Regions from separate parts of the Homo sapiens genome. Here all the other regions are reported to be linked to region 6. The links are microRNA targets in miRTarBase. Many come from high-throughput screens and were not tested one by one. Region 6 holds a microRNA gene; each other region holds the end of a gene's coding sequence. Distances are from middle to middle.
The links. The annotated mature microRNA hsa-miR-155-5p reads UUAAUGCUAAUCGUGAUAGGGGUU and lies in region 6 at 2,079-2,102, opposite strand. An mRNA with a match to its seed (bases 2 to 7 or 8) in the 3' UTR can be bound and repressed. Matches are read on the target gene's strand: a 7mer-m8 pairs with bases 2 to 8, a 7mer-A1 pairs with bases 2 to 7 and ends in A, and an 8mer does both.

Region 1: miRTarBase lists AGRN as a target of hsa-miR-155-5p. The part of its 3' UTR that is shown has no 7-base or 8-base seed match.
Region 2: miRTarBase lists MORC3 as a target of hsa-miR-155-5p. Seed matches in the 3' UTR shown: 8mer at 2,927-2,934.
Region 3: the mRNA of ATP13A1 is a reported target of hsa-miR-155-5p. The part of its 3' UTR that is shown has no 7-base or 8-base seed match.
Region 4: miRTarBase lists SSH2 as a target of hsa-miR-155-5p. Seed matches in the 3' UTR shown: 7mer-A1 at 2,848-2,854 and 7mer-m8 at 3,948-3,954.
Region 5: the mRNA of DNAJB1 is a reported target of hsa-miR-155-5p. Seed matches in the 3' UTR shown: 8mer at 1,774-1,781.
Region 7: miRTarBase lists MECR as a target of hsa-miR-155-5p. Seed matches in the 3' UTR shown: 7mer-A1 at 2,310-2,316.

What each region holds. Positions count from the first base shown.
Region 1 is chr1:1,054,326-1,058,491 of GRCh38, forward strand. It overlaps AGRN (agrin), which reads left to right. Exons shown (of 36, transcript NM_198576.4): 35 at 123-226; 36 at 499-1,791. The coding sequence ends at 656. Among named protein-coding and RNA genes, the nearest start is that of RNF223, 18 kb to the right of the region's middle. RefSeq lists a silencer at 110-292.
Region 2 is chr21:36,374,563-36,378,728 of GRCh38, reverse strand. It overlaps MORC3 (MORC family CW-type zinc finger 3), which reads right to left. Exons shown (of 17, transcript NM_015358.3): 17 at 2,097-3,586. The coding sequence ends at 3,433. Among named protein-coding and RNA genes, the nearest start is that of CHAF1B, 8.7 kb to the left of the region's middle.
Region 3 is chr19:19,642,117-19,646,282 of GRCh38, forward strand. It overlaps ATP13A1 (ATPase 13A1), which reads right to left. Exons shown (of 26, transcript NM_020410.3): 23 at 4,089-4,166; 24 at 3,758-3,869; 25 at 3,531-3,674; 26 at 3,082-3,416. The coding sequence ends at 3,306. It overlaps GMIP (GEM interacting protein), which reads right to left and starts at 1,541. Exons shown (of 21, transcript NM_016573.4): 1 at 1,395-1,541; 2 at 419-503. The coding sequence starts at 1,413. RefSeq lists enhancers at 418-1,373, 595-754 and a silencer at 1,385-1,634.
Region 4 is chr17:29,627,060-29,631,225 of GRCh38, reverse strand. It overlaps SSH2 (slingshot protein phosphatase 2), which reads left to right. Exons shown (of 16, transcript NM_001282129.2): 16 at 1-4,166. The coding sequence ends at 385. Among named protein-coding and RNA genes, the nearest start is that of CORO6, 6.2 kb to the right of the region's middle.
Region 5 is chr19:14,512,403-14,516,568 of GRCh38, reverse strand. It overlaps DNAJB1 (DnaJ heat shock protein family (Hsp40) member B1), which reads left to right. Exons shown (of 3, transcript NM_006145.3): 2 at 1-103; 3 at 399-1,800. The coding sequence ends at 629. Among named protein-coding and RNA genes, the nearest start is that of DNAJB1, 3.9 kb to the left of the region's middle.
Region 6 is chr21:25,571,919-25,576,084 of GRCh38, reverse strand. MIR155 (microRNA 155) reads right to left here and starts at 2,105; the gene lies at 2,041-2,105. It overlaps MIR155HG (MIR155 host gene), which reads right to left. Exons shown (of 3, transcript NR_001458.3): 3 at 917-2,192. RefSeq lists an enhancer at 281-430 and a silencer at 1,982-2,161.
Region 7 is chr1:29,190,586-29,194,585 of GRCh38, forward strand. MECR (mitochondrial trans-2-enoyl-CoA reductase) reads right to left here. Exons shown (of 10, transcript NM_016011.5): 10 at 2,072-3,594. The coding sequence ends at 3,437. Among named protein-coding and RNA genes, the nearest start is that of SRSF4, 11 kb to the left of the region's middle.

The DNA.
Region 1 (4,166 bases), not on the chromosome of region 6:
ATACCTCGGGGGTTCTCCAGGCTGAGGCACCTGCAGGGCATAGGAAGGATGCAGGGCTTATGGTCTAGAGGAGGCAGAGGGAACTCTGGGCCCTGATGGTCTCCCCCTCCCTGCACACCCAGGGAGCAGAGGGAAGGTTCCCTGCAGGTGGGCAATGAGGCCCCTGTGACCGGCTCCTCCCCGCTGGGCGCCACGCAGCTGGACACTGATGGAGCCCTGTGGCTTGGTGAGTGTTTTGGGGAGACTAGAGAGGGATGCCCAAGGGTCTCATGATATCCGAGGGACAGACTCCACCCCCCAGCGCCCACCCTTGAGTCAGGGTGCATGTGAGCCGGCGGGCTGGGCTCTCTTCTCCCGCTGTAGCCCCTGCAGTTCCCAGTGCTGTGGGGCCGGGAGGCGGGTGCCCAGGTGTGGGCCCCCTGCTGGTCACCTGCTCGTTGGGGTGCCCATCAGCATCACTGAGTCACAGCCGGGTGACTCCCACTGTCTGTGCTGCAGGGGGCCTGCCGGAGCTGCCCGTGGGCCCAGCACTGCCCAAGGCCTACGGCACAGGCTTTGTGGGCTGCTTGCGGGACGTGGTGGTGGGCCGGCACCCGCTGCACCTGCTGGAGGACGCCGTCACCAAGCCAGAGCTGCGGCCCTGCCCCACCCCATGAGCTGGCACCAGAGCCCCGCGCCCGCTGTAATTATTTTCTATTTTTGTAAACTTGTTGCTTTTTGATATGATTTTCTTGCCTGAGTGTTGGCCGGAGGGACTGCTGGCCCGGCCTCCCTTCCGTCCAGGCAGCCGTGCTGCAGACAGACCTAGTGCCGAGGGATGGACAGGCGAGGTGGCAGCGTGGAGGGCTCGGCGTGGATGGCAGCCTCAGGACACACACCCCTGCCTCAAGGTGCTGAGCCCCCGCCTTGCACTGCGCCTGCCCCACGGTGTCCCCGCCGGGAAGCAGCCCCGGCTCCTGAATCACCCTCGCTCCGTCAGGCGGGACTCGTGTCCCAGAGAGGAAGGGGCTGCTGAGGTCTGATGGGGCCCTTCCTCCGGGTGACCCCACAGGGCCTTTCCAAGCCCCCATTTGAGCTGCTCCTTCCTGTGTGTGCTCTGGGCCCTGCCTCGGCCTCCTGCGCCAATACTGTGACTTCCAAACAATGTTACTGCTGGGCACAGCTCTGCGTTGCTCCCGTGCTGCCTGCGCCAGCCCCAGGCTGCTGAGGAGCAGAGGCCAGACCAGGGCCGATCTGGGTGTCCTGACCCTCAGCTGGCCCTGCCCAGCCACCCTGGACGTGACCGTATCCCTCTGCCACACCCCAGGCCCTGCGAGGGGCTATCGAGAGGAGCTCACTGTGGGATGGGGTTGACCTCTGCCGCCTGCCTGGGTATCTGGGCCTGGCCATGGCTGTGTTCTTCATGTGTTGATTTTATTTGACCCCTGGAGTGGTGGGTCTCATCTTTCCCATCTCGCCTGAGAGCGGCTGAGGGCTGCCTCACTGCAAATCCTCCCCACAGCGTCAGTGAAAGTCGTCCTTGTCTCAGAATGACCAGGGGCCAGCCAGTGTCTGACCAAGGTCAAGGGGCAGGTGCAGAGGTGGCAGGGATGGCTCCGAAGCCAGAAATGCCTTAAACTGCAACGTCCCGTCCCTTCCCCACCCCCATCCCATCCCCACCCCCAGCCCCAGCCCAGTCCTCCTAGGAGCAGGACCCGATGAAGCGGGCGGCGGTGGGGCTGGGTGCCGTGTTACTAACTCTAGTATGTTTCTGTGTCAATCGCTGTGAAATAAAGTCTGAAAACTTTAAAAGCATTGCTTTTGTCCATCCTCACCAGCGCGCTGGCCCGTTGGCTTCTTGCTCCGCTTTGTGGTGGGAGCACGGACTTGGAGCTCCCTTGGGTGGCCCTGGATGGAGCCAGGCCCTGCACAGGGATCCTTGTGGCTGATGAGGCCCTGAGTGGGGAGCACACACTGCTGAGCACTGTGGGAGGCGGGGCCGTGGAGGCAGGAGGCTCTCTGGCGTGCACGTGTGGGTGCGTGTACGTGTGGGGGTGTGTGTGTGTGGGTGCGGGTACGTGTGGGTGCATGTGCCTGCTCTCTGGCGTGCACGTGTGGGTGCGGGTACGTGTGGGTGCGGGTACGTGTGGGTGCATGTGCGTGTGGGTGCGTGTGCCTGCTCTCTGGCGTGCACGTGTGGGTACGTGTGGGTGTGGGTGCGTGTGCCTGCTCTCCGGCGTGCATGTATGGGTGCATGTACGTGTGTGTGGGTGCGTGTGCCTGCTCTCCGGCGTGTATGTGTGGGTGCGTGTGCGTGTGGGTGCGTGTGCTTGCTCTCCGGCGTGCATGTGTGGGTGCATGTACGTGTGTGGGTGCGTGTGCCTGCTCTCCGGCGTGTATGTGTGGGTGTGTGTGCCTGCTCTCTGGCGTGCACGTGTGTGTGTGTGTGTGTGTGCCTGCACACATAATTGGCCCACATCTGTGTCAGAGCACAGGGTTGGGAGGAGGCTGCACCCAGGACTGGAAGGGTCTGGGGGGAGCCAGGGTGCGTGGGGCTGTTGGGCAGCCTTTTCACTGGCCCAGGTGTGCAGAACCAACCCTTGGCACTGCTGGAAGCCCCTAACTAGAAACCCCTGGGGTAGCTGGGCTCCTGGACTCCCTCTAACCTGCTTCCTAAATTAGTGTGTGGGTGACAGCACTGCAGAAGCTGAGCCTCAGGGAAGGGCGCGGTGGCTCACACCTGTCATCCCAGCACTTTGGGAGGCTGAGGCTGGAGGATCGCTTGAGGCCAAGAGTGGGAGATCAGCTTGGGCAACATAGTGAGACCCCATCTCTGCAAAAAAATTTCTTTAATTAGCCAGGCGTGGTGGTACACACCTGTAGCTCCAGCTACTCCGGAGGCTGAGGCAGGAGGATCACTTGAATCCAGGAGGTTGAGGCAGCAGCAAGCTGTGATTGCACCACTGCACTCCAGCCTGGGTGACAGAGCGAGAACCTGTCTAAAAAACAGAGCTGGCACCCAGCACCGGCAGATGTGAGCCCTGGGGAGAAGCAGGGGAAGAAGGGGTAGGGTGTGTGGCCAGCTGGGTGGCCCTTCGCAAACTGCTGTCTCTTATGAAAAATAACTAAGTGTAGTTTTCTATTTTGTATTAATGATTTTAAAAAAAAAGCCAGGTGCGCTGGCTCACACCTGTAATCCTAGCACTTTGGGAGGCCGAGGCGGGTGGATCACCTGAGGTCAGGAGTTCAAGACGAGCCTGGCCAACATGGTGAAACCCTGTCTCTCCTAAAATACAAAAACTGGCTGGGCATGATGGTGGGTGCCTGTAGTCCCAGCTACTCCGGAGGCTGAGACGGGAGAATTGCTTGAACCCAGGAGACGGTGGTTGCAGTGAGCCGAGATCACGCCATTGCACTCCAGCCTCAGTGGCTGAAGGAGACTCCGTCTCAAAAAAAAAAAGAAAAAAGAAAACCACAAAAACATCGAAATAAAATAACACCAATGGCTGGGCACATTGGCTCATGCCTATAATCCCAGCACTTTGGGAGGCTGAGGCAGGCGGATCACCTGAGGTCAGGAGTTCAACACCAGACTGGCCAACATGGTGAAACCCTGTATCTACTAAAAACACAAACATCTGGGCGTGGTGGCAGGTATCTGTAATCCCAGTTACTCGGGAGGCTGAGGCACGAGAATCGCTTGAACCCGGGAGGCGGAGGTTGCAGTGAGCCGCGATTGCACCACTGCACTCCAGCGTGGGCGACAGAGCGCGACTCCGTTTCAAAAAAAAAATGAAAAGATAATACCCACAAGCTCCACACCCAGGAGGTCCCATGCGTCTGAGTGTTTGCTTTCTGGGCTTTTCATCACCTGGTCCTCTGGGGATATGCTGACCGACCCTGTGTGCCTGGCAGGTGTCAGGCACTGGGGGTCGGGGAGGAGAGAGTCCAGGAGCGGTGGCCACACACAGGTCGCTGACGGTGGGGGGCCAGGGTGGGGGCAGACTAACTTTGGTTTTCAGGAAAGGTCCAGAGAAAACACGCCCAAACCCAGACCCGAAGCATGAGCAGGGGGAGGGCAGGTGAGGAGGCCAGAGGCGGGGCATGTGGTGTGGGTCCATTGGACGGTGTGCAGGGCCCTGTGGCTTGACAAAGGGATCTTTCAGCAGGAAGCGGAGGCGTAGGAG
Region 2 (4,166 bases), 11 Mb from region 6:
CATGTGTGGTATGTATTAATCTTCACAGTATACTTTGAGACGGAGTCTCGCTCTGTCACCAGTCTGGAGTGCAGTGGTGTGATCTCGGCTCACTGCAACCTCTGCCTCCTGGGGTTAAGTGATTCTCCTGCCTCAGCCTCCCAAGTAGCTGGGATTACAGGAGCCCACCACCACGCCCAGCTAATTTTTGTATTTTTAGTAGAGATGGGGTTTTACCATGTTGGCCAGGATGGTCTCGATCTCCTGACCTCATGATCCACCCACCTTGGCCTCCCAAAGTGCTGGGATTACAGGCACGAGCCACTGCGCCCAGCCAGTATATTCTTTCTAACGAAAAGTAAGTAAGTAAGTAACCATTAGGAGCATATTCCTATGATGAAATGTTACTTAAGCTTTTTGAAAGAATGATATGGAAATGTTTAGTTATCAATTATATGGTATAATCCCACTGTGTAAATATCGACACAAATATACGCAATTTAATGTAAATAAAATACATACACATGAATGTGTGCATGTATGCACACAAAAGCCAATAGTGGTTACCTTTAGAGGCCGTGGAGAAAGTCTTTTCACTGTTCATTTACATCTCTACCGGGGCACCGCTCTGCTTCCCCTCCCTCCCCCTGCTTGCCCCAGTGAGAAAGTGGATATGCTGATCCCGTTTGTTTCGTGAACCACTCAAGTTCAACATTTATAAATACTCAACAGAAGACACAACTCAACAGTGCTTGGCTCTGATGGTGCACTGGAATTAACCCGGGAGGCCTTGAAAAATACTGTTATCTGGGTCTAACCCCAAGGACGCTGACTTAATTAACGTGAGGTGCAGCCTGACTTTGGGAGTTTAAAAAACTCCCCAAGTAATTCTACTACGCAGCCAGAGGTGAGAACTTAAATGATTCCTCAATGATGTATGACCCAAGTTTAAGACGTCTCATGTGACAGCAAGAATCAAGCGTCTGAGATCACAGGCAGCGTCACCAACTGGACCTGCCACATGAAGAATTTGAGGCCCAAAGGAAGCACACAGGGACGTGCCATGCCCTCCTGCTCTGTGTGCTCACTCAGCTTTCACTGATTTTGCCACCCTAGGTCCTGTTTGAAGACTGTGGACTGTTTTGGTTTACTTCCTCATACCTTTCGTGTTTTAAAGTAATAAACATTAGTTGAAGCAATACTGTCCCCCACATGCAACAAAAGAAAGAGAAAGGTACATACATCATGAAAGCCCACGTTGTTCTGTTAAACAACAGTTGTTCTGTCTGCAACTGTGAGCCACATTTTCGAAGTCTCATATCTTGGCAATACTTCAATATCTTCATAAAGAGCAAAAAGTATCTAAGTGCTTCCAAAGAATCAATTTAGCAAGCAAGTTTCTCTTACTAATCCCATGATTAATTTTCCCATCAAGCCAGACAGCTACAGGAAATATTTTTGCAAGAATACATAGAGAAGCTGGCCAAAAGGAAGGGAAAAATAGCAAATTCCAAAAAGAACCACTGCATGAGTTAGATATTCACAAAACTTACATATGATTTACATAGCTGCTATTATTTAGGCAAGGTTTCTCTAGAGTAAATGATTTATACAAAGAAAAGTCCTTTTTTTTTGAGACGGAGTTTCGCTCTTGTTGCCCAGGCTGGAGTGCAATGGTGTGATCTCGGCTCGCTGCAACCTCCACCTCCCAGGTTCAAGTGATTCTCCTGCCTCAGCCTCCTGAGTAGCTGGGATTACAGGCATGCATCACCACACCCGGCTAATTTTGTATTTTTAGCAGAGACGGCATTTCTCCATGTTAGTCAGGCTGGTCTTGAACTCCCGACCTCAGGTGATCCGCCCGCCTCGGCCTCCCAAAGTGCTGGGATTACAGGCGTGAGCCACTGCGCCAGGCTGAGAAAAAGCTTTTGAAAACAGAATATACATGCTCTGAGGAAAGAGGAGCTCAGCCTCAGTCTTAATGGAAACAGTCTTCAAAAAATAAACTGCAATTAAAGTAGTTAAAATGAGCTCAAGTTGAGGGTCTAATGAATACATTTTTAGTTTTAAAATAATTTGAGGTTAATATTAAGTCTTTAAAAGTAGCATTTGAACAGTTAGCCATCATATATTTTTATTTTATTATAAGATATTTTAAAATTTGGGAAATTACAATTGTGACAGAAAACCAGCTTCATACCAAAAATACACTTTCAATTACTTTATCAGGCAAATAAAAACAATCTTCATTTATTTGCTCTTTCCAGAATTACTATACAGTAAAAATTCAATACTGTATATGACCGACACGTATTAAGCATACATACAAAATGAACGGATTGAATGTTCAAAAACAAAGGTAAAAATAAATAGCAATGATAAAACTTTGGAAAAAATAATGCACATTTTAGTTGTGGAAAATATGGTTCTTATATATACATAGTTTATACTTAATAGAAAGCCATCTCTTTAAAATTGCACAAAACATGGGACCAATAAAGCATAGTATTTTATGGCATGTAATACTATAATCCTAAGGAAATTTGTTCCTTGACTCTAGGATATAAAACACTTAGGTTTGTAATATAATAAAAGGTATGTAGTATTGTTTGAGAAAGACTGTCTTCCTCAACTCACATTAACCTGTAGTAATCCTACAAAAGGCTGTACAGGAAATTTCACAAAAAGAAATATTAAAAAATTATCATGCCCACTTCATGCTGACTAAACAGCCAAAAATGGGCTTCAAAGTAAACTTGGTGGCCATTTAATATTTCAATACCTTTTTTCTGTTAAAGACTGTTTCTTCATTCTATAAAAACACTTTGTGTTTAACCGTGATTGGCAATCTCAGCACAACAAAATCCTGGCAAAATGGAGTTGGTTTTTGCTTACCTTATTTTCATGAATAAAATATTTCAGGACAGGAATTTATACAAAAGAAACATTAATGCTCAATTCACTTATAACCAGAGTTGTATCAGGAGTGTTACTACATTATTTAAAAATCCTATTTAAACTCCTTTATAAGAAAATCAAAGGTAACATTTCCATTTGTATTATGGCATAGCCCTCGACTTAGAGAAAAATACACTTTGGGGAACCAGAAAAAATTGCACAAAGCTTAGGGGCAACCTGAAAAGCTCTTGGTGAAAAACACTTGAGTACTCTAGGGCAATAAAAAAATATGTGCAGGCTTAATTACAAATATTTACATTCAAAACAGAGTCATGAGTTAGCTTCAGCTGCTCAATGCCAACAATTCACAGGTATTTCAAAACATAAGATAATGTGTCCACAATATTTGTGACCACATTTGAATGCATAGAATACAGTAAAGATTATGGTTTTCAGTCTGTTGCCTATCATATCTATAAAACAAAATTAATTATATTTTGAAAGCTGTACAACCAAAAGAATTGAGCAAATATTTTATCTTACATAACATATACTTTAAGTACTACTGATTTCACTCATTTGTTCAACAACTTGTCCTAAAATCTCATCAACTACATCAACATCGTAATTCACTTGCTGAAGATCAAGATCAGGCACAATCATAGCCAGCAGTTGTCCTACGTTAACTCGAAGAGATCGGAGTTTGAGGCTGCAAATACAAATATGTAACTTATTAGATGAGCATTACAAGTTAAGATTCATGTAGACCTTAAAAAGTAAAATATCAAAATCAAATCTCCGTAGAATAATATACAATTAAACAAAAGGAAAAGCAAAACCTCCCCTAGAGAACTCAATTTACTTTAATAATTCACTTTTATGAGTCAGGTGCACTTGCCCATGCCTGTATTCCCAGCATTTGTGAAGCCGAGGAGGGAGATCGCTGGAGCCCAGGAGTTCGAGACCAGCCTGGCCAACATGGTGAAACCCTGACTCTACTAAAAACACAAAATATTAGCCGGGCTTGGTGACGACACCTGTAGTCTCAGCTTCTCAAGAGGGTGAGGTGGGGGATCACCTGAGCCCAGGAGGTCAAGGCTGCAGTGAGCTGCGATGGCACCACTGCTCTCCAGGGTTCACGCAATTCTCCCACCTCAGCCTCCTGAGTAGCTGGAAGCACAGGCCCACACCACCATGCCCGGTTAATTTTTATTATTATTATTTGTAGCAATGGGGTTTCACTATATTGCCCAGGCTGGTCTCAAACTCCTGGGCTCAATCAAGCATTC
Region 3 (4,166 bases), not on the chromosome of region 6:
GACCTTAGGGTTGTTTGTGGCAAACATCACCTCTGTGGCATCTCTTGTGTCTGGGAGGTCTGAAGAATGGTGTTTTGGGGGAATCAGGTGAGTTTTTTTTAAATAGGACTTGAAAAAGCATCTGAAGGGCCCCAGATAACTTTGAGGTTCATAGAGTGGGATTATAGGGATCGCAAATATTTTAAGGGGTTACAAGGATATGTAGGGGTTCTAGGACCACTTTGGGGATTTCCAGTCTATTTAGGGGGACACTTTTAGGATACCGAGGCATTTTGGAGGGTCCCATCCTAGACTTCTCTGGTTATTAGGTATGTAGGTCCAGATGTTACAGGTTCCAAATGGGACTGCAAGGCACCTAAATGGTTAGGGGCTTGGGGCATCTTGGCAGGATTTGGGGGTGATCCAGGCTCAGACTCACACGTTCCCCAGTGAGATTTCGAGGTTGTCCAGGCTCCGGAAGATGTCACTGTACCTCTTCCTGCCCTCAGGACCTGGGGGGAGTCCTAGGGGAGGGGAGTGTAATACATGGGCTAACCACTGCCTCCCTCCACCCACGGCACCTCAACCAGTCTCATTTGGAGGGGGTGGAAGAGAAAGGGAAGAGTGAGAGAGAGAAAGAGAGGGCTGGGGGGGGCTTGGTTGGGGCCAACTCGAGGCAGGCAGATGGACTCACACACCACCAGAGACCAGAGACAGCTGCTCGGGGAACAGAGACACCCACTCCCTGGGTCTGCCTGCACCCAGAAGCAAACCAACAAAACAGATGCCCCAGATGCAACCAGGCTGTCCCGAGAAGAAAGCCGGTCTGACAATGGAACCACGGGCTAGACAGATGGAAATACACAAGGGACAGCCAGGCAGAGCCTGGGGCAGAAACACACATGGAGAGACTGAAGCCGTGAGGGACATAAAGACCGAATGACACTCCACATACACAACACAGACACAAAGACGGCCGGAAACACCAAGTCGGACCCCGCCACATTTCTACTGCTGCCCCCCTGCCCCCTCTCCTAAGGGGCCTAGACCAGCACTGCCGACTCCCCAGGGCTACAGAGGGGCCCTGTGGGGATCCTACCGCGTTGCCCTCTCCCTCAGCAGTCGTGGCACCCTGCCCCCATCACAAAAATCAGAAGCAGAAGCAGTCACTTCCCCTTCCTGGGCCCCCTCCCCCAGGCGTCTGGGGTGAGGGATCAAAAGGGGGAGGGGGAGTGAAGGGCTGGGGTCCTGAACCCATCCGGGCACAGGGCTCCCCACAATGGAGGATCCCTGGGTCCTTCCCATTCAGGAACTCCTCTCCTGGCTCTCAGGACGGAGCGGGACAAGTGTGTGCCCTCAATGTAGGAAGCAGGGGATGGTCGGGGGAGGCCCCTCCCGGATCCCCGACCCCCTACCCGGCTCTGCTGCGTCCATATCTGGGCCCGGGGATCGCTCTGCAGGGACCGGGATGGGGATGGGGTCGCGCGCCGGCGGGGCCGAGCCCCGATTTCCTGCCGCCGCAGCCGCCGCCGCCGCCTCGGTTCCGCGTCGCCCTGCCCAGCGGAGGCCACGCCCCCGCATCAGACCACGCCCCCGTAGCCCGGAAGCCTTGATAGTGCCCTTCTCTACCTGAGCCGCTTGAAACTGGGTCGGGCCAGGGCCCCCTGAGCGACCACTCGAGGCTGCAGTGCCCCTGACCTGGGCATCCTAAGACTTCATCTGGGCCATAGGTTCCCTCTCAGATCTTTGTGCTACCCCAAATCCCACGGAGCCCCAGCCCCCTCCTCCCTGAATGGTTGCAGAGTCCACCTGTCCCGGGGGGCCTCTCCCAGGAGCTCCCACAACCCGCGACCCTGGTGATCCCCTTGCCCAGGTTGTCTCTCGGAGCCCTGAAACCACCTGGGCCTCGCTGGAGCCATGGCGCCCCCTGGTGGAGGCCTGATATTCTGTCCGATTCCAACCAAAATTCTAATACTCGGGCTGGAGAACCCCTGGCCTGGGGGACGCCCCTTCCGTGACCCTCAAAGCTGGATCAGGCTCAAGGCCCCAATTACAGCACACCAGGGAGCAGCCCTTTTAGGTAGGGAGTGGAGGTTTGTCCAAAAGCACCAGCTCTGGGGTTGCCACAAGCCGCCTGTTATAAAAATGCTCCCACCCCCAGCACAGTGGAATTTTGGGGCTGGAAATAGACTTTAAAGTATGTTTATAACTTTGTGTCCAAAGGCTTTGGCTGTTAAGGAGGCAAGGATTCTCTGACTGGCTCCGTGCTGCCTACTCTGCAGTTCTTGAGTTGTGATGAGTGAGTCCATTGAAAGGAATAACACTATCAACCTAAGAGCCAAGCCAGGTTTCCAGGTCACATCCTGGCTGATGCTCAGCCAGAGCTCCCTGACTGTGACATGAGATGGTAGAGCAGCGCAGGCCCCCAAAGAGCATGACAGAGTCAGTACTTGTTTGTTTTTCTTTTGAGTTGGAGTCTCGCTCTGTTGCCCAGGCTGGAGTGCAGTGGCGTTATCTCGGCTCACTGCAAGCTCCACCTCCTGGGTTCACGCCATTCTCCTGCCTCAGCCTCCCGAGTAACTGGGACTACAGGCACTCGCCACCATGCCTGGCTAATTTTTTGTATTTTTAGTAGAGATGGGGTTTCACTGTGTTAGCCAGGATGGTCTCGATCTCCTGACCTTGTGATGGGCCCGCCTTGGCCTCCCAAAGTGCTGGGATTACAGGCTTGAGCCACCGGACAGAGTCAATACTTGTAATGATGCAGATCATATTCCTCAAGTCTCAGACACCACCCGAGAGAAAGGCATGCTGTTATGTATTATGGGAAAGAAAAAAATATCACACATCCTAAGGCTTCTCTCAGCACCTGAGTTGTTAAAATGTGAAAGAGACCTCAGAAATATGGGGGTGCTTGTTAAACTAGAAAATATGCACTGAATTCTCTGGGCAGGGACAAGTCCATGTTCAAGTGCTGAAAGTGCCAGAGGGTTTCACCAACATCACACGCCTGTGGGGAGGGTGCTGGGACCTTCCTCAGTGACCCTCTGTCCCCGAGCCCCCAGCAAACACCGTGTGGCACAGACGAGGTGGAGGCAGGGCTTTTTAAAATCTCAGATGCTGCTTTATTTACCAAAGGTGCTGGCTTGGGGCTGGTTCTGCTGGCCAAGCCAGCGGATGGCTGTGGGGGTCCCAGCTCAGTCTTCCAAGGGCGAGACTGTACAGCCTTGCTGTGGGGGGTTGGGGGCAGGGTTCCCTCCCGGGGCCCTGTTGGGGTTCCCGCCCAGCGGCAGCCAGGGTGGGCAGTGGGTACCAGCACTGCCATCTCAGGAAGGCACTTTCAGCTTCGGGGTCCCCAGGAAGAACTGCAGGACGCGGTCGGCCAGGAGCGCCAGGCAGAAGTCCAGGAGCAGGACCTGGGCAATGACCAGCTTGAACTGTCGGGGCAGGGAGGGATGGTGAGCTGGAGACCTGCAGCCCAGCTCAGGGTCACTGCCATAGGAGGGACCCATCAAGCTGAGCCCCAGGGTCACCTCCACAGGGCCACTGACCTCCACAGGGATGTCCACGAGGCCAAACTGGCTGTTGAAGTCGGGCGAGGAGCCGAGGAGCAGGCCAATGATGGCCAGGAGTGAAACTGCCAGACTCCACACCAGGGGCTTGTTCTCGGGCAGGCTCTCCATGAAGGGCGGGCCCTGTGGGGATGAGGGACAGATGGCTTCATGGGGTGGGGCTGGGTGGGCAGACAGTGAATGTTTGGGCAGGGCCCAGGCCTTACTTTGTAATTGATGGCGAAGGTGGCCATCTGCATGGCCATGGCCATGATGTAGACGGTGCTGTTGACCAGGCTTGGCTCAAACTCCTTGTACAAGTCCACGAACTGCTCCTGCCTGCAAGGACACATGGGAGTCAGGGCCCCCTCTCCTGCTCCGGCTCACACACACTGTGTGGCTTCCTGCTGCCCTGGCACAGAGCTAGGGCTCTGCCTGGCCTAGTGCCCCTCCCTGGACACCCTGGACAACCCCCAGCCTCTCCTGCTGAAGTCTGTGGAGTCATCCTCCTGCTATTCTCAGCTGCAGGGACATCACCTCCTCCAAGGCAGCACTTACTTCTCGGGGCTCCGGGCCTGGGCCTCACGGTACAGGTAGACAAGGCTCAGGAAGTGCACAAAGAACTGGAGCATGACG
Region 4 (4,166 bases), not on the chromosome of region 6:
CTCAGGCATGCACGCGATGGAGGACCAAGAGTCCCTAGAAAACCCAGGTGCCCCCCACAACCCAGAGCCCACCAAGTCTTTTGTAGAACAACTCACAACAACAGAGTGTATTGTGCAGAGCAAGCCAGTGGAGAGGCCCCTTGTGCAGTATGCCAAAGAATTTGGTTCTAGTCAGCAGTATTTGCTCCCCAGGGCAGGACTTGAATTGACTAGTTCTGAAGGAGGCCTTCCCGTGCTACAGACCCAGGGACTGCAGTGTGCATGCCCAGCTCCAGGGCTGGCCGTGGCACCCCGTCAGCAACACGGCAGAACTCACCCCCTTAGGAGACTGAAAAAGGCAAATGACAAAAAACGGACAACCAACCCCTTCTATAATACCATGTGATTCTGAGCCTACACATGTGACTTTCTAGAAGAAATGTTTGTAAAAGGGGCAGGTGTAATATGTAAGGAACATGCACTTTATTGGTTAATTTTATAATATTTTGGTCATTTTACTGTTTCTGGTGCATGCAGGGTTTGGGTGTTTTTCAGTGTGTATGTGTGTGTATATGTAAGGGGAAAGAGAGATTGATCTGGATGGCAAGACCGTTTATCATTTTTTATTTAAAAAAATCAAACCTCAAAAAAGTCATTTTCAGAGAACACCTTTATCAAAGGCAAATTGCTGTTTTTCAGTCAGCTGCCACCTGCTTCTCATTTTGCCCTCTGAGAAAAGGCATGGTTTCTTAATTGAGGGAAGGAAGCAGATTCGGAGGGGTGGAGATAAAGCTGGGGATTGGAGATGTTCCCCTGCCTTTGTGATGATGGTTTGGTTTCCAGACCTGAGGCATCGAATGGGCTAAAGGTCAGCCAGAAGTCAGAGGGCTCTCAGCCTTCATCCAGCCGCAGCCCTTTAGAGTTCCTGAAGGAGGCAGGTTCCGCTTTGCTTTAAAAGAGGGTCTTCCGGTGTTCCAGAGTGTATCGTTACAGTAAGACATGATAATGGCCGGCTCTGCAAATTTATCATATAGTTTTTTTCCCAAGAAAATTATTTTTGAAATTAAAACAGGACCCCAAATGAAATCCAAGTGGTCTTCTGTAGAGGAAAGCATGATAAGAGGAGGAAGACATAAAGTTGGGGGTGGAGAGGCTGCTGCCCAGAAACTGCTGGGTTGGTGGGATCCACACAGATGGGCATCTTGGCTCTCCCTGCCAGAAAAATGTGCTCTGCAGTGTCCTCCCAACTGAAAACAACAGTGACATGTTTGAAAAGCAGCAATCGAAAGTCAGTGTGTTCTTGTAAAATGAATATGTATGTAGGGTTTTAACCCTTCCATTACTTGAATAATTCTTTGGGCCTTCTGAGTTTAATGGCCATATTTTCTTCCAGTTTATTTTCCTTCCCCATGCTGTTGTCCCCATGCTGCCTATTTTTTTAAATTTCATAGATTATATTTGAATTGTTACATATGTTTAACATCCATTGAATGCAACGTTTTATTTTTGGTATTATCACTGTTAACACTTTTTTTTCCTTTTCCTGGAAGGTTTGTCATTTCTCTAAAGTTTGTACACAGTATTTATGTACATAATATTGTCACTGTCTTAGTGTCTTGTTCATGTTGTAGGGTAATTTTGATTTATTCTTTTTAAGAAGGAGTAGAGTTGCAACTGGAAAACACAGACACCAGAAATGAAAGTGTTGGGTGTTGATAGGAATCTGTACAATATGTTGATGGTGGCTGTAGTTGTTTAAATGGAGACTTCCAATCACCAGCTCCTGCCAAATTATGCATTAGTAACTTTTTCCTCAGAGACACCCCTAAAGGCTCCCATTAGGTCACAGCGTGACTGAAAGCTGATTTCTCTGTGAGACTGAAATCCCAGAACATTGTTTGCCAGTATCTCAACCACAGCCAGGAAGTATATGTGAGTTGCCCAGAGTGGAAGCTCCTAGTAGAGGCTGAAGGCCACAGGGGAGGCCTCAGCCAGGGGCAAGTGCCCACAGTGACTCCATTTAGGATGCTGTCGTTTTGCTACTGTTGTGGAGATCCTTAACGCAGCAGCGCCTGTCATAAACAAGCCTCTTGTAGCTTCTTACAGAAAACAGATTTAGTCTAGCATGAAACACCTCTGCATCTCATTGAAACTGAAGAGGCTTGCAGATTTGCTTTCGTTGATGTCCACGTTACTGAGGATTGACTGAGTATAGACTGGAGACAGGTTTTTGGCTTATCACAGCACTGAGGAAAATACAAATGCACAGACTGTCAGCATGATGTCAGAGGCCAGAGTTTGGTGGGGGCAGATGGCAGGGCGACCCAAAAGATGCAGAAAAGGTAGACTGGGGCCACTGGGTCTTAAGAGGAGCTGTGAAGTTGTGTGGAAGCCAAGGCTGGGTCTGACATCCCTGCCAGGAAGCAGGTTGGACAGAAACCACTTGCTAAAAGCGTCTCTATGGTGCAGTGATTATGTGTACCCTGTGCTGTTGCTCAGTAGTCTCCTTGAATGTTCAAGTATCTCATCCACTCAGTTTTGTGATTCCTGGATATTTGTGTGTTGTAAAGTGTTTTGTTAGGTGGTATGAACCAATGTGAGGAGGCTTGAGACAGGGTTATGGATTTCCAGAGCTCTTCCATGTAGAATACCCTGCCTTCTTGAAGCAGTTCCACCACCAATATGATGGGGAAGGGCAGGAACTTATGGCAGGGTGGGGAGAGGGTTTGCCTGGAAGTTAAGAGAGTGGCATCCACTTGTGGTAACCCCTTACGATGATGACATCCCACACACTAAGAGGTACAAGCAGGACCAAAGTTTTGGACTGTTCCCTCTTCTCCCCTCCACTGTGTTTAATGTTCACTCACTGCATTAAATAACAACAAAGATGGGACAAAACCCACTAATACTGTGGGGAAAAAAAATTTTCAAGAGCAGAGGAAAGTCTTTCTGCCTTTTTATAATTACTTTTTTTATCATTTAATTTACCTGCCTAAATAAACATCTTCTACAGAATATCTGTCATTCAACCATGCCAAGGAGTTTGTGCCAGCCTTTTCAGACTCCCAGAATTGGGTGTTCCTGGGTTATTTACATAGCTGAGCAGTGTCCAGGGGAGGTGCGCAGTGAACTGTCAAGGACTTTCCAGACTGTCTTCTCTTCAGACTTTTATAATCTCCAGTGGCATCTTTCCCTTTTCTTTTGTTCATGACCTGACCTGAAGCAGCAGATTTGATAGACTGGCAAAGATGAATAGGAAAAACTTTGACTCTTGCCCAGTGCCTGCCTGCCTCTCTCTCTCTCCTCTCTCTCTCTCTCTTTTTAAACCACCATAGACTCTCACTTATTTTGGAGGAGTGTATGTGCATGTGTACACATATGTACATATATAAAAACAGTTGATGTTTTGGTGTATGGGGTAAAAGCCCCAGGAGCATACAGAACTTGAGCTGAACCTGGTCAGTAGAAAGGGAAACCCCAACCCTTTCTTGATTTTTGGAGACACCCAGGACTAATGGATACTGTAGTAGACATGTAGTACTATAGTACCGTAATATTCATCTCTCCTCATTTTAGTTGCCTTTCAGATTCTAAATGTTTGGGATCATTCCTATCATCTTAGTCTCTTCAGGATCTTTAGTATTTTCCTGGTTCTGAGGAGGCTTGAGACAGGGTTATGGATTTCCTTGTTCTGTGTCTTTATCCCTACTGATAGTTCCTCTTTCTCATTTTGCAAACTACCCAGAGCTCCAAGGACAGCCTGAAGATCTCAGTGCCTCAGGCTCTGAGGTACTCTGCTCACAGGCCCCAGACAGATGCTGTTGGGTAAACTCAAAGCTTCCTATGAGAAGCTTCTGAGATGTAGCAGGTCACAGAAGTGTTCACCTGTTTCATCTGAGGATTTCAGTTCTGAAGTGATCTAGGCATGTTTGGTAAAAATGTTTTTGTGAGAGTTCTTTTTTTAAGAAAGCATTATGCAAAAAGTCACTTTTAAGGGCATTTAAAAATTTTTAAGTAAAGCCATTCTTTGGCTTTTTTGGACTATTTGTGGATACTTTGTTTACATTTTGAATATTAAAATGTGCATCATCTTGTCGGCCATGCAGTCCTGCAGGCATCAGTGCCCTGGCTGTCCTGTGAGTCCTCATGCAGAGCAGGGCCATCATGGTCAGCCCTTGTGAGTAAGT
Region 5 (4,166 bases), not on the chromosome of region 6:
CATTCCAGCTGATATCGTCTTTGTTTTAAAGGACAAGCCCCACAATATCTTTAAGAGAGATGGCTCTGATGTCATTTATCCTGCCAGGATCAGCCTCCGGGAGGTAAGGTGCCAGGTGGGGCGGTGTCTGTAGAGGGCGATGGCTGCTTTTTGAAGCAGTTTAGTATTTGCTGAACCAATGTGTTGGGGTGTGTGGTGCGTGCCAGGCTTGGGGCACAACAGTGAACAGGACTGACCAGGGCGCTGTTGTGGAGCTTTCGTGGTGGGGACGTGTAGATTTGGGGGCCAGGTCTTAGCTGCAGAGGCCTGATGGGTCTTATCTATGGCAGACGGCCTCTGGGCAAGAGCTGAGCCTCTTGAGCCAGCTTCCATCTAATGCTGTCCTTTTGCTTTTCAAGGCTCTGTGTGGCTGCACAGTGAACGTCCCCACTCTGGACGGCAGGACGATACCCGTCGTATTCAAAGATGTTATCAGGCCTGGCATGCGGCGAAAAGTTCCTGGAGAAGGCCTCCCCCTCCCCAAAACACCCGAGAAACGTGGGGACCTCATTATTGAGTTTGAAGTGATCTTCCCCGAAAGGATTCCCCAGACATCAAGAACCGTACTTGAGCAGGTTCTTCCAATATAGCTATCTGAGCTCCCCAAGGACTGACCAGGGACCTTTCCAGAGCTCAAGGATTTCTGGACCTTTCTACCAGTTGTGGACCATGAGAGGGTGGGAGGGCCCAGGGAGGGCTTTCGTACTGCTGAATGTTTTCCAGAGCATATATTACAATCTTTCAAAGTCGCACACTAGACTTCAGTGGTTTTTCGAGCTATAGGGCATCAGGTGGTGGGAACAGCAGGAAAAGGCATTCCAGTCTGCCCCACTGGGTCTGGCAGCCCTCCCGGGATGGGCCCACATCCACCTCCAGTCCCTGGCCAGGGGTGAGAGGCAGACCAGCAGATGGACTTGATCCCTCTGTGTCTTTTTGCTTCTGGCTGGTAGATAATGTCAACCTGCAGTCTTGATTCCCAGACCCTGTACACTCCTCCTTTTCTGTTGTGTGATCAGTTTGTGCTTTATTCTGTATTTGTCTCCCATGTCTTGCTCTTCTCCTGGAGAATTCTGTCTTCTCTTTGGCCATCTCAAATTGAGAACCTAAACTATTCCTGCAGAACTGCCTGGTTGGCGTCCACAAGCAATACCTCTCGTTCCAGCAGGACCAAGGGAGCCAGCCTCCAGTGAGTGACTCCAGCAAGTGCAGCCACCTCTCCCTTGATGGTCTGGGAGCCTGGCCTCAGCAAGGGGCCTTCCTGACCTCTGGCTCCAGTGAAGCTGAATGTCCTCACTTTGTGGGTCACACTCTTTACATTTCTGTAAGGCAATCTTGGCACACGTGGGGCTTACCAGTGGCCCAGGTAATTTTTTGTTTCATGGACTATGGACTCTTTCAAAGGGATCTGATCCTTTTGAATTTTGCACAGCCCTAGATACAATCCCTTTTGATAAAAGGGTCTTTGCTTCTGATTACAGGAGCACTGTGGAACGTCTGTAAATATGTTTTTATAATTCCATGTATAGTTGGTGTACACTCAAAACCTGTCCCCGGCAGCCAGTGCTCTCTGTATAGGGCCATAATGGAATTCTGAAGAAATCTTGGGGAGGGAAGGGGAGTTGGAACAAATGTCTGTTCCCTGGAGGCCAGTCCAGTGCTCAGACCTTTAGACTCATTGTAAGTTGCCACTGCCAACATGAGACCAAAGTGTGTGACTAGTCAATGAAGTGCGACAGCATTAAAGACTGATGCTAAACCTCAGGGGAGCGGTCCTGTGACTCTGTTTGAGGGTTCTGCTGGTTTTGGGGGTGGAGTGGGGAGCTGGGCATCCTTCCAAATTCAATCAAGGTGAGAGGGTGGGATGGGCAGGAGGCAAGTGCCCTGCAAGGGAAACGTAAGTCTCCCTTCCTCAGCCATAAGTGGGTTGGAGAACTTCTACCCAGACTCGGGGTCCAAAAAACCAGAGACCCAAGCACAGTGGCCTTGGGGATCATTTTTTGATGAAGGTTGGAGTCAAAGTAGCGGTGGGGAGAGGCAGGGTCTGGCTCCTAATTCTGCCTTTCTTCAGGGTCCCTGGCTTTTTCAGCAGACCTTGGCTCTGGGGCCAAGGGGCCAACCCAGGGTCTGGCCTCTTAATTCCTTATCACTCCTTCCCTGCTAGAACGGGCTGGGCGTCCTGAAGGCTGGCCAAACCGGAGCTCAAGGTCCTGCCCAGGACTAGCCCCACTGTAGAGAGGACCCATTTCCTGCCTTGGCTTTATTTGCAGGCTACTAAAGCTGCTTTTACTTTGTAACTTTCTTTAAAATAACTGGTTTTATTATAAAGTAATTGCTCAGGCTTAAAACAATGTATTGCTGCTTTGTTACAAAATGTTCTAAAGTGGAAACACTGTATATAGACCAGGAGCAGTGGCTCAGGCATGTAATCCCAGTACTTTGGGAGGCCAAGGTGGGTAGATCCCTTGAGCTCAGGAGTTTGAGACCAGCCTAGACAACATTGTGAAACCCCATCTCTACAAAATTTAAAAATTCAGCCGGAGAATGCAGCGTACACCTGTAGGGCCAGCTATTTATGGGACTGAGGCAGGAGGATCAATTGAGCCCAAGAGGTGGAGGCAGTAGCAAGCTGTGTTTGTGCCACTGCACTCCAACCTGGGTGACAAAGTGAGACCCTGTATCAAGAAAAAAAAACTAAAACACAGTATCCAAAAGTCAAACTGGGCCAGACGCAGTGGCTCACACCTGTAATCCCAGCACTTTGGGAGGCCAAGGCGGGCAGATCACCTGAGGTCAGGAGTTTCAGACCAGCCTGGCCAACATGGTGAAACCCCGTCTCTATTAAAACAAAAAGCCAGGCGTGGTGCACGTACCTGTAGTCCCATTTACTCAGGAGGCTGAGGCAGGAGAATCACTTGAACATGGGAGGCAGAGGTTGCAGTGAGCAAAGATCCCACCACTGCACTCCAGCCTGGGTGACAGAGCGAGGCTGTGTCTCACAAAAAAGTGTCAAGCTAAGAGTTGCTTTCCCTTCCCACTGAAACAGTTGAAGCGCTGAAAACAGGCTAGGGGCAGCCCTGCCAGTCCAGGAGAACTTTCTGCAATGACTAGAACGTTCTATATACCGTTTACTTAAACATCTTACAAATTCAATAAAATTAGAATCAGTTCCTCAGTCCTGCCACACTTCAGTTGCTTAGCAGCCACACATGTATGTGGCCAGTGGCAACTGTTGGACAAGTCAAGTCTAGAGGGCTTTTCCCTAAAGACATTGCAGGGGTGACTTTGAAGAGCAGCCACATTAAGCCAGGAGACGCCAGCCCAATCAGGAGGTGACCCTGGAATATCAAGAGCTAAGAGATGTTTACCAAAGTATCCCACACGCCAAGGTCACATTTATTGCGGAACTGACCTGACCTCATTGGTGACACAAATCCCAGGGCTGCCATCCCCACCCCCAAGTCTCCATTATACACCAAGTCCCTGTGAACTTCATACTGAAGTGTCACAAACATAAAGGTGCACGAAGCCTTGAGGTATATACAATTCTGGGAACTTCACAAAAAACACGGCCAAGCAACCTACCAGGTAGCAGTGTGAGGAGTGGGACGGTGGGATTTTGAGGGGAAAATCTTGGTGGTAAAAGGGCCCAAAGACCTTTCACACATGCATTTTTTTGCTCAAAGGCCACTACTTGGCTTGTCTATCTTGGCCGGATATCTGGTGCACCCACATGCAAACTTTTCCCAAAGTCTTGGGCTTGTTTTTTTTTTTTTTTTTTTTCAGACAGAGTCTCGCTCTATCCAAGCTGGAGCGCGGTGGTGCAATCTCGGCTCACTGCGATCTCCACCTTCCAGGTTCAAGCAATTCTCAGCCTTCCAAGTAGCTGAGATTACAGGCGTGCGCCACCACGCCAGGCTAATTTTTGTATTCTTAGTATAGAGATGGGGTTTCACCATGTTGGCCAGGCTGGCCTCAAACTCCTGACCTCAAGTGATCGGCGCCCCCTCGGCCTCACAAAGTGCTGGGATTACAGGTGTGAGCCACCGCACTCAGGATTTTTTTTTTAATTTCTTTTTTTGAAGACAGGATTTCACTCTGTTGTCCAGGCTGGAGTGCAGTGGTAGGAT
Region 6 (4,166 bases):
AAGAAATTGAGGCTTAGAGGAAGATTAAGTAACTTTCCAAAGCTTCATGTGAGTGTACCCAAATGCTCTTCAAATAAGGCATTTCCCAGCACAGCTTTTCTTTAAGTGCCTTTGTAATGTTTATAGCTTTTTATTGTAACAGCAGGAAGGTTATACTACAATAGTTTATTCCAGTCCTAATGTTCTATGACTTTGTGTCTTTAGGCAGCAAGCAGGATTTTGAAGAACTGGGACTCAAAGCAAGGAGTCCTCTTGTAGATATACAGTGGCAGATAAAATGAATTGAACAGACACTTTTTTTTTTTTTTGAGATGGAGTCTCACTCTGTCACCCAGGCTGGAGGGCAGTGGCACGATCTTCGTTCACTGTGAACTCCACCTCCTGGGTTCAAGTGATTCTTCTGCCCCAGCCTCCTGAGTATCTGGGATTACAGGCACGCACCACCATGCCTAGCTAATTTTTGTATTTTTAGTAGAGACGAGGTTTCACTATGTTGGCCAGGGTAGTGTAGAACTCCTGACCTCAAGTGAACCACCCGCCTTGGCCTCCCAAAGTGTTGGAATTATAGGCGTGAGCCACTGTGCCTGGCCTGAAGAAACACTCTTGAATGTGTTCTACCTACATGGGAGCTCCGTGGAGCCACAAGCTCATTCCAGGTGTTAGGAGAAGAAATTTGTGTTGGCAGCACATACAACTTGAACAGAAAGTGAGGAGAAGAAATTTGTCTTGGCAGCACATACAACTTGAACAGAAAGTGGGGCAAAGCCAAATGGGTATTCTTACATGAGAATACTGTGTCCTAGGAGTCAGGAATGTTCCCTTTAGTGTCCTCATAATTTTCTTCCATTGTCTTTTTTTGGCAGATAGCTTCTGGAATTATAATTTGTACTTTGCAAAAGAAAATGGGCCATAAAAATTATTTTAAATCAACTAAAGACTCATGAGATTTATTTGGTTACAGTGAATAACCTGGACAAAATGTTGAGAAGAGTTGTTAAAACAAGTTTACATTAAATATACTAACAATTACGTTTGGTTACATATTTGTAAGTGATGGTTATTTAGAAAAACTGCATAGAAATCCAAACCTTAAATATTCTGCAAATCAAATCATTAGCTTTTCTCTTCTCTAATAAAGTAGGGTGACTAGTTCTTGGATTAATCTAACTATAACATTAATGTAGCACTTGATTATCTTATGGAATAATTCTCTATCTCATCTAAGCCTCACAACAACCTTGTAAAGTATTATCCCCATATGGAGGAAGAAACAGGCTTAGAAGTGGAAAGGTAGATTCTCTGCTCGCACAACCGTATTATGTGGCTAAGCTATTGAACTTGAACCTAGATTTGGGACTTCATTTCAAATATGAAATTTTTTGATTAAATCTTTTTATCTTGTATGGAAAAAATATCTCATTAGCTGTCAGATGTTATTTACCCTGCTAACTGTTAAAAATATTTCATTAAAAAAATTCAGCTTCATAGCCTTTCAGTTTCCCTTTAAGAGTCAAATAAAAGTATTAATTTTAAACTGAAGTTGCCTGAACAGAAAATCGTTACCTGGGGGAAAGTACCAGTTTCTAAATCTTTTAAAAAACGTTGCCAGACAATCCATGATATAACTGGAGGTTAGTAGTCCTTCTAATTTTTAACTACAAAAATATTATAGAAATTTGTGTTTAGCCCACATTTCTAACAGTTGAATCAAAGGTGTTTATGAACATTATAATGAACAAGCCAAAACCTGCAATTAAGAATGACATGAATATATTTTCTGTTAATGATAAAAACAAACATGGGCTTGACATTTAAATGAAAATGTTTGCATTTAGGATACTACTGATAAATCTTTTAAATAACCTTACTTTCAAAACTTAGTTTAAGGTTGAACATCCCAGTGACCAGATTATGATTAACAGATTGAAAAATGATAAAGCCTGAAGTCTAAGTTTATCCAGCAGGGTGACTCATGCTTCTTTGTCATCCTCCCACGGCAGCAATTTGTTCCATGTGAATGCTAGTAACAGGCATCATACACTGTTAATGCTAATATGTAGGAGTCAGTTGGAGGCAAAAACCCCTATCACGATTAGCATTAACAGCATACAGCCTACAGCAAGCCTTCAGCACTCAGAGGATGAGGCATAAAGAATTTAAACCACAGATTTCCCCTTCCTGGTTTGTGCCACCTGCAAGAGAGAAAGAAATGTTTGTGTATGCACATGCGGTTATAAAGCTGGAGTGACAGCATATAGTAAATCTGAAAGGAAAATAGTCCATTTTCTGTTGAAAGGAAGGAGCTCATTAAATCCTTGGAAGTAATTTTTTGAAAGTGGTAGAGAAATTGGCAATTAAAAGATGACATTGTTACCTTTAGGCATATTTGAAGACTTTGAAAATTATGTTTTAAATTCTATTCTCTAGTTTTGAATCGGGTACACATATGTATCATCTTCTTTAAATAAAAAACAAAAACCGCTCTTCGGAGTTTTCAAATGCCAAAATGCAAAGAGGAAAGCTTGCATTCTGACACAGTACAGTTTTTTTTTTTTCTGATTTGTACTTCATCTAGGAGCTAGACAATTAAAGGCCCAAATGTTCAAAATAGTCCTTTATGATTTATGAAAATTAAAACCCAATTAACCTGTTTTATAAGGGTAGGGTTCAGGCTGAATTTTTCTTTCTGTAATACATAGTTGAAGTTTTACCTTTATTCTTTCAGGAAATGTGATACAAGCAATGGAGGTTTGCCTACAAACGAATCTATCTGAAAATGTCCCCGTCTACTATTTAGAGATTCCTTTGGGGAAAGCACTACCCAGTGGCTTTGGTTTTGACTACATAAAGGAAGTATGACTTAAAGAGTCCTCTGTGTTTCAAACTACTTGTCTTAGGCAGAGGGTTGATTAAAAAAAAGAACAAGATGAATTTGCTACTTCCTTTTAGAGTCTGATTTTACTCTCTCAGATAAAGTGACATTTCTCCCACAGGTTTCTGATTTCAGTGTTACTATAACAGAACCTAGAAGTTAGAGTATCATTCAAGTATGTGGTCTCCTGCAGTACAAGAGGGGAATCACCTTTTCTTTTATTTAATAATGAAACCAGCTAGATATAAAAATGTGACTAAGTTCAAAAGAAACGTATGAAGTAAAAAATTCCCCAGTGAATATATTTTGACAGGGCAGAATATCGTGGTTTGGAAATTTCCAAACCAAGGAAATATATTATTCTTACTGATAGTATTTTTTTTTAAACTTTACTGTTTTCTGAGATGAATTAGTTGATGATGAAAAAATTTGGGTTAAATGATGTCACTTCAGGAATTCAATTCATTTTACAGAATTTCAGTCAATAAAGATTGTAAAAACAAGGACTTTTTTTCCCCCTTACAGGGTCCTGGACACAGTAAATGCTCAATAAATACATATTAATAATGTAGTGTTAGTGCCACCCCAGCCAATATAACTCGCCCTTTTCTTAAAAGATGTGTTTAATTTGTATTGAAGGTAAATTGCTGGCATACTATTCTACCCATAAATTTTATTCCTGTTCTTTAAAGATAACATATGAGCACAGGTATTAAAATAAATATATTTAGTATACTAATTAGCTTTTTCCCTCTTTTTAAATATACATACGAATTGCCTGATTAGAGCACTCAGAAAAGTGACAGTGTTTTTGATAATGTGTTATATATATTAAAAATTCTAATAGCTTTTTTTATTTGTTCAAACTCTAAATGTATATTGAAATAAAACATGTCACACAGGTCCCCTTTTGTTCTCAAACACAACCTTGTCATACAGGCATGATGAATTCCGAACACTGCAGAGAAATGAGAAGTTTGTCTAAATATACTATAGAACCTTAGGTCATATTTAAAACACAATGATAGATGAAAAACATTAATGAACAGAAGAAAGGAGAAATATCCCAGAAAAAAAAAAAAATATATATATATATATATATATTCTACAATTTAAAAATAGTAGACTTTTAAGGACATTAGAATGACTAGAAGGTCATTCATTCATCAGTGTGGAGTCTATGTCCACTTCCAGTGTTTTTGACTGGGCTAAGCAACCAACAACAGAATTGCTATATGCCTGAGTGGGAATTAGTGGTCATAGACAACAAAGGCCAGTCTATTAGCCAAGGCAC
Region 7 (4,000 bases), not on the chromosome of region 6:
GAGTTCGAGACCAGCCTGTCCAACATGGTGAAACGCTGTTTCTATTAAAAATAACAAAAACTAGCTGGGCGTGGTGGCAGGTAATCCCAGCTACTCGGGAGGCTGAGGCAGGAGAATCACTTGGACCTGGGAGGTGGAAATTGCAGTGAGCCGAGATTGCACCACTGCACTCCAACGTAGGTGACAGAGCAAGACTCCATCATCTCTCCAAATAAAAAAAAAAAAAAAAAAAAGAGGTTCCTAAGAAACTGACGCCTAACACCTCTGCTTACATCACTTGCGGGGGCAGATCTTGTTAGCTGCAAGGGATGCAGAGAAACAGTGTTTATTCCGGCCTGCCATGTACCCACCTAAAAGTTGTAGGTTTTAATTCTCAGGAAGAGAATGGAGAAAATGAGACAGTTCTAACATAAATACCCTGTCTCTGTAACTGCCTAATCTGCTCTCTTCGTCTGTAATGCTTGTCACCCTTCCCTGAATAAATTATAATCATCCTTTGAAGACCAGCCCAAATGTCACCTCCAGACCCCTAAAGGTACAAGGAATCATTGCCTTCACTGTTCTCAGGCATTCTGCACGTTCCTCCAGATCTTGAAGCGTGGTGTTACAAACATTCCTGTATGCCTGCTCTTAGAGTGGGCACCAGGGGCCTGCTCCTTCACCAGGACTCAGGCTCACCACTCTCCCTAAACCCCAACCTTATGGATTCCCCTTGAAGAATCCTATTTTTTTTTTTGAGACAGAGTCTCTCTCTCTTGCCCAGGCTGAAGTGCAGTGGCGTGATCTCAGCTCACTGCAACCTCCGCCTCCCAGGTTCAAGTGACTGTCCTGCCTCAGCCTCCTGAGTAGCTGGGACTACAGGCATGTACCAGCACGCCTGTCTAATTATAGGTGTGAGACACCTCACCTGGCCTAAAGAACCTAATCTTAATTTTACTCCTGTGGCCTCTGGCAGCCTTCCCTCCTTCTAAGGCTTTTTTCACTTGCCTGCACTGATCATCTGTACAATCACTTGTCCCACTAACCTAGAGGACAGGGACCAGGAAAGAGTTGGGGCTGATCTTGAGCCCAGAAGGTGGCAAATATTCCCCAGAGGGCAATGCAGACCTTTCCCAGCCCCAGGCTGAAGCTGAGTCCTTTTTTCCAGCGGACATAAAAGATGCTTCCAAAGAAAAGATGATTATGCTGGGAGTCCATGTTCAAACTGGCATGCAATTAAACCTTCTGGCCGGGTGTGGTGGCTTACGCCTGTAAACCCAGCACTTTGGGAGGCCGAGGTGGGTGGATCACGAGGTCAGGAGTTCAAGACCAGCCTGGCCAACATAGTGAAACCCCATCTCTACTAAAAATACAAAAATTAGCCAGGTGTGGTGGCATACACCTGTAGTCCCAGCCACTCGGGAGGCTGAGGAAGGAGAATCGCTTGAACCCAGGAGGTTGAGGCTGCAGCGAGCCAAGATCGCCCACTGCACACCAGCAAGGGCAACAGTGTGAGACTTCGTCTCAAAAAAAAAAACAAACATTCCGAGCCAGTTTTTTCCATATTGCTCCACTGCCTAAAATCCCTTGGTGCCTCCCTAGGGCTTCAGGGTAAGCCCTGACATCATGGTCCTTTGTGATCTGTACCTCACCCATGTCTCCCACCTCAGTTCCCACATTTCCCCCACGTCTAAGGCAGCAGCTACACTTGACTGCAGTTCCCTGAGTGCCAGGCTCTCAGGCCTCTAAACTCTCATGTGCTGTTGGCTTTGCTTGGTACGCAGTTTCCTGCTCGGTTTTCAAGACTGGCTGTGGGAGACACTTCCTCTAGGAATCCTTCCTTGATGCCCTCGGGCAGAACTGGGGCCCCTGTGTGTCCTCTCAAGGCCCTCTGAACACCTCCATGTCAGTGACCTCATCATTATACTATACTGGTCAATCTTGCACTAGGCTAAGCAACCTGAGGGCCAGCAGCACTTCTTTCATTGGTATCCTTAGCTTTGGGCACACACTAGGCACTCAATAAATACGTCCTGAATGAGGCTCCTGAGTGCAGGGTACAGAGGGCCAGGTGATAAGGGAGACACCCTGAAGCCTCTGTTCTTTGCTTTGAGCAAATGAATCGTGAAGCAAATACCAAAAAGTCACGTCAAGCTCTTCTCTCGGCCTGAATAAAGCTCACTCATTTGTGAGAGCCCACCTTCAAACTTCACCTCAAGGAAGCATACCCCTGTCCCTGGGGCCTAGGGCAAGATCTTTATTCTGCTCTTACAGCACCCCACATATCTTCTTTACAGCATTAGTCACTATGGTAATTACTGTGAGATTGTTTAATGCACGGTTTATCAACGACCTCATGAACATTGAACATTTGGGGCTAGATTTTTTTTTTTTTTTTGATATAGGGTCTTGCTCTGTTGCCTAGGCTGGAATGCAGTGGCATGATCATGGCTCACTGCAGTCTAGACCTCCCAGGCTCAGGTGATCCTCCCACCTCAACCTCCCGAGTAGCTGGGACTACAGGTGCACAGCACCATACCTGGCTAATGTTTGTATTTTTTGTAGAGATGGTGTTTCACCACGTTACCTAGGTTGACCTTGAACTCCTGGGCTCAAGTGATCCGCTTGCCTTGGCTTCCCAAAGTGCTGGGATTACAGGTGTGAGCCACCGCGCCAGGCCTTGGGTAATTCTTTGTTGCAGTAGACTGTTCTGTGTCCTGTGGTGGGTTTAACAGCAGCACTCACTCTGCCTGCTAGATGCCAGTAGCAACCTCCTTCATAAGCTGTGATAGCCAGAAATATCCCCAGACATTGTCAAATGTCTCCTGGGGGTAAAATTGCCTCTGGTTGAGAACCACTGGTATATTGTCTATGTCTCCAGTTAGAAGGGCAGTTCCATGAGAGTGAAGACCCCACGTCCAAGTTCCTCAGGGCCCTGATGACCTCAGCCTGGCATTCACTCTTCCATGCAGCTGATCCTCCCCAAGCCCTGGACTGGGCCGCAGGCTACCTGAGAAGCACATCAAAGCGTTTGTTCTACAGGACCCTCGTCTGTGGGCTTGTGCAGCTTGGGGCCAGGGATGGTGGCCTACTGGCCTTTGCACTGCCAGTACCCACCCAGGCTTTGCTTTCAGGGTGGTCAGAAAATGATTACTGGGGGAACACATGACAGAAAAGCAGGAAGGGGGCCTCTTGGTGCTGTGAGCTGACCAGTGCACAGTGTTGGTCCTTCTCGACAGGGATGACTTCTACTTTTTGGAAGGGAGAGTTCAGACTTTATTAGATACCTTAAGGCTGGCCCTGGGGAAAACCGTGGCTGGCTTCACCATCCTCCTAATAGGAAGAGGCAGTGAGGAGAACAGTAGTCTGGGGAAGGTGGGAGCCCCAACTGAGGGGCCTGCACCCAGCCCCTCAGATCCGCCTCCCCTCCCATGTCACTCCAGCTCTTTTGGGATGATCACATGGTGAGAATCTGCTTTGAAGATATGAAGGGCTTCATGGAGGCTTCCAAGGCAGACTGGTAGTCCTGCAGCGGGACCTGGGAGCAGGCAGGGGCTGTGAGCTGGCCTCGGCGGATGAGATCGCACAGTGTGAGGATCAGCTCCTTGAACTGGTCTGCGGGAGGTTGGAGGAAATCAGACAAGAGAACAGCAGCTGGGGCTTGGTGAGATGTGGCACGGGGCTGCCCTATGGGCAGGAGCTGGCACCAAGCTCCAATAAAGCCTTGAGAGTCCTGGCTGTGCCAAGGATAGGGTGGCTGTGGAGGCAGCCTGGTCCCTGCCTGTCTTTAGGACAGTGAGGTCAAGGTGGGGAGAGGGGAACATAGGAGCGGCTCTAGGGGCTGAGGGGCAGACAGGCAGAGACCACCCTTCAGAGTGGTGGCTAAGATGGCACAGACTCACAGAACCTGGCCACAGTGGAGACAGGAGCACTGAATGGTGGGAGGAAAAGGATGGCGGAGGCAGGGAGGCCAGAGGAGGCCCAGAGAGGGAGTGGGTATGCCTGGCACGCCAAGTGATGT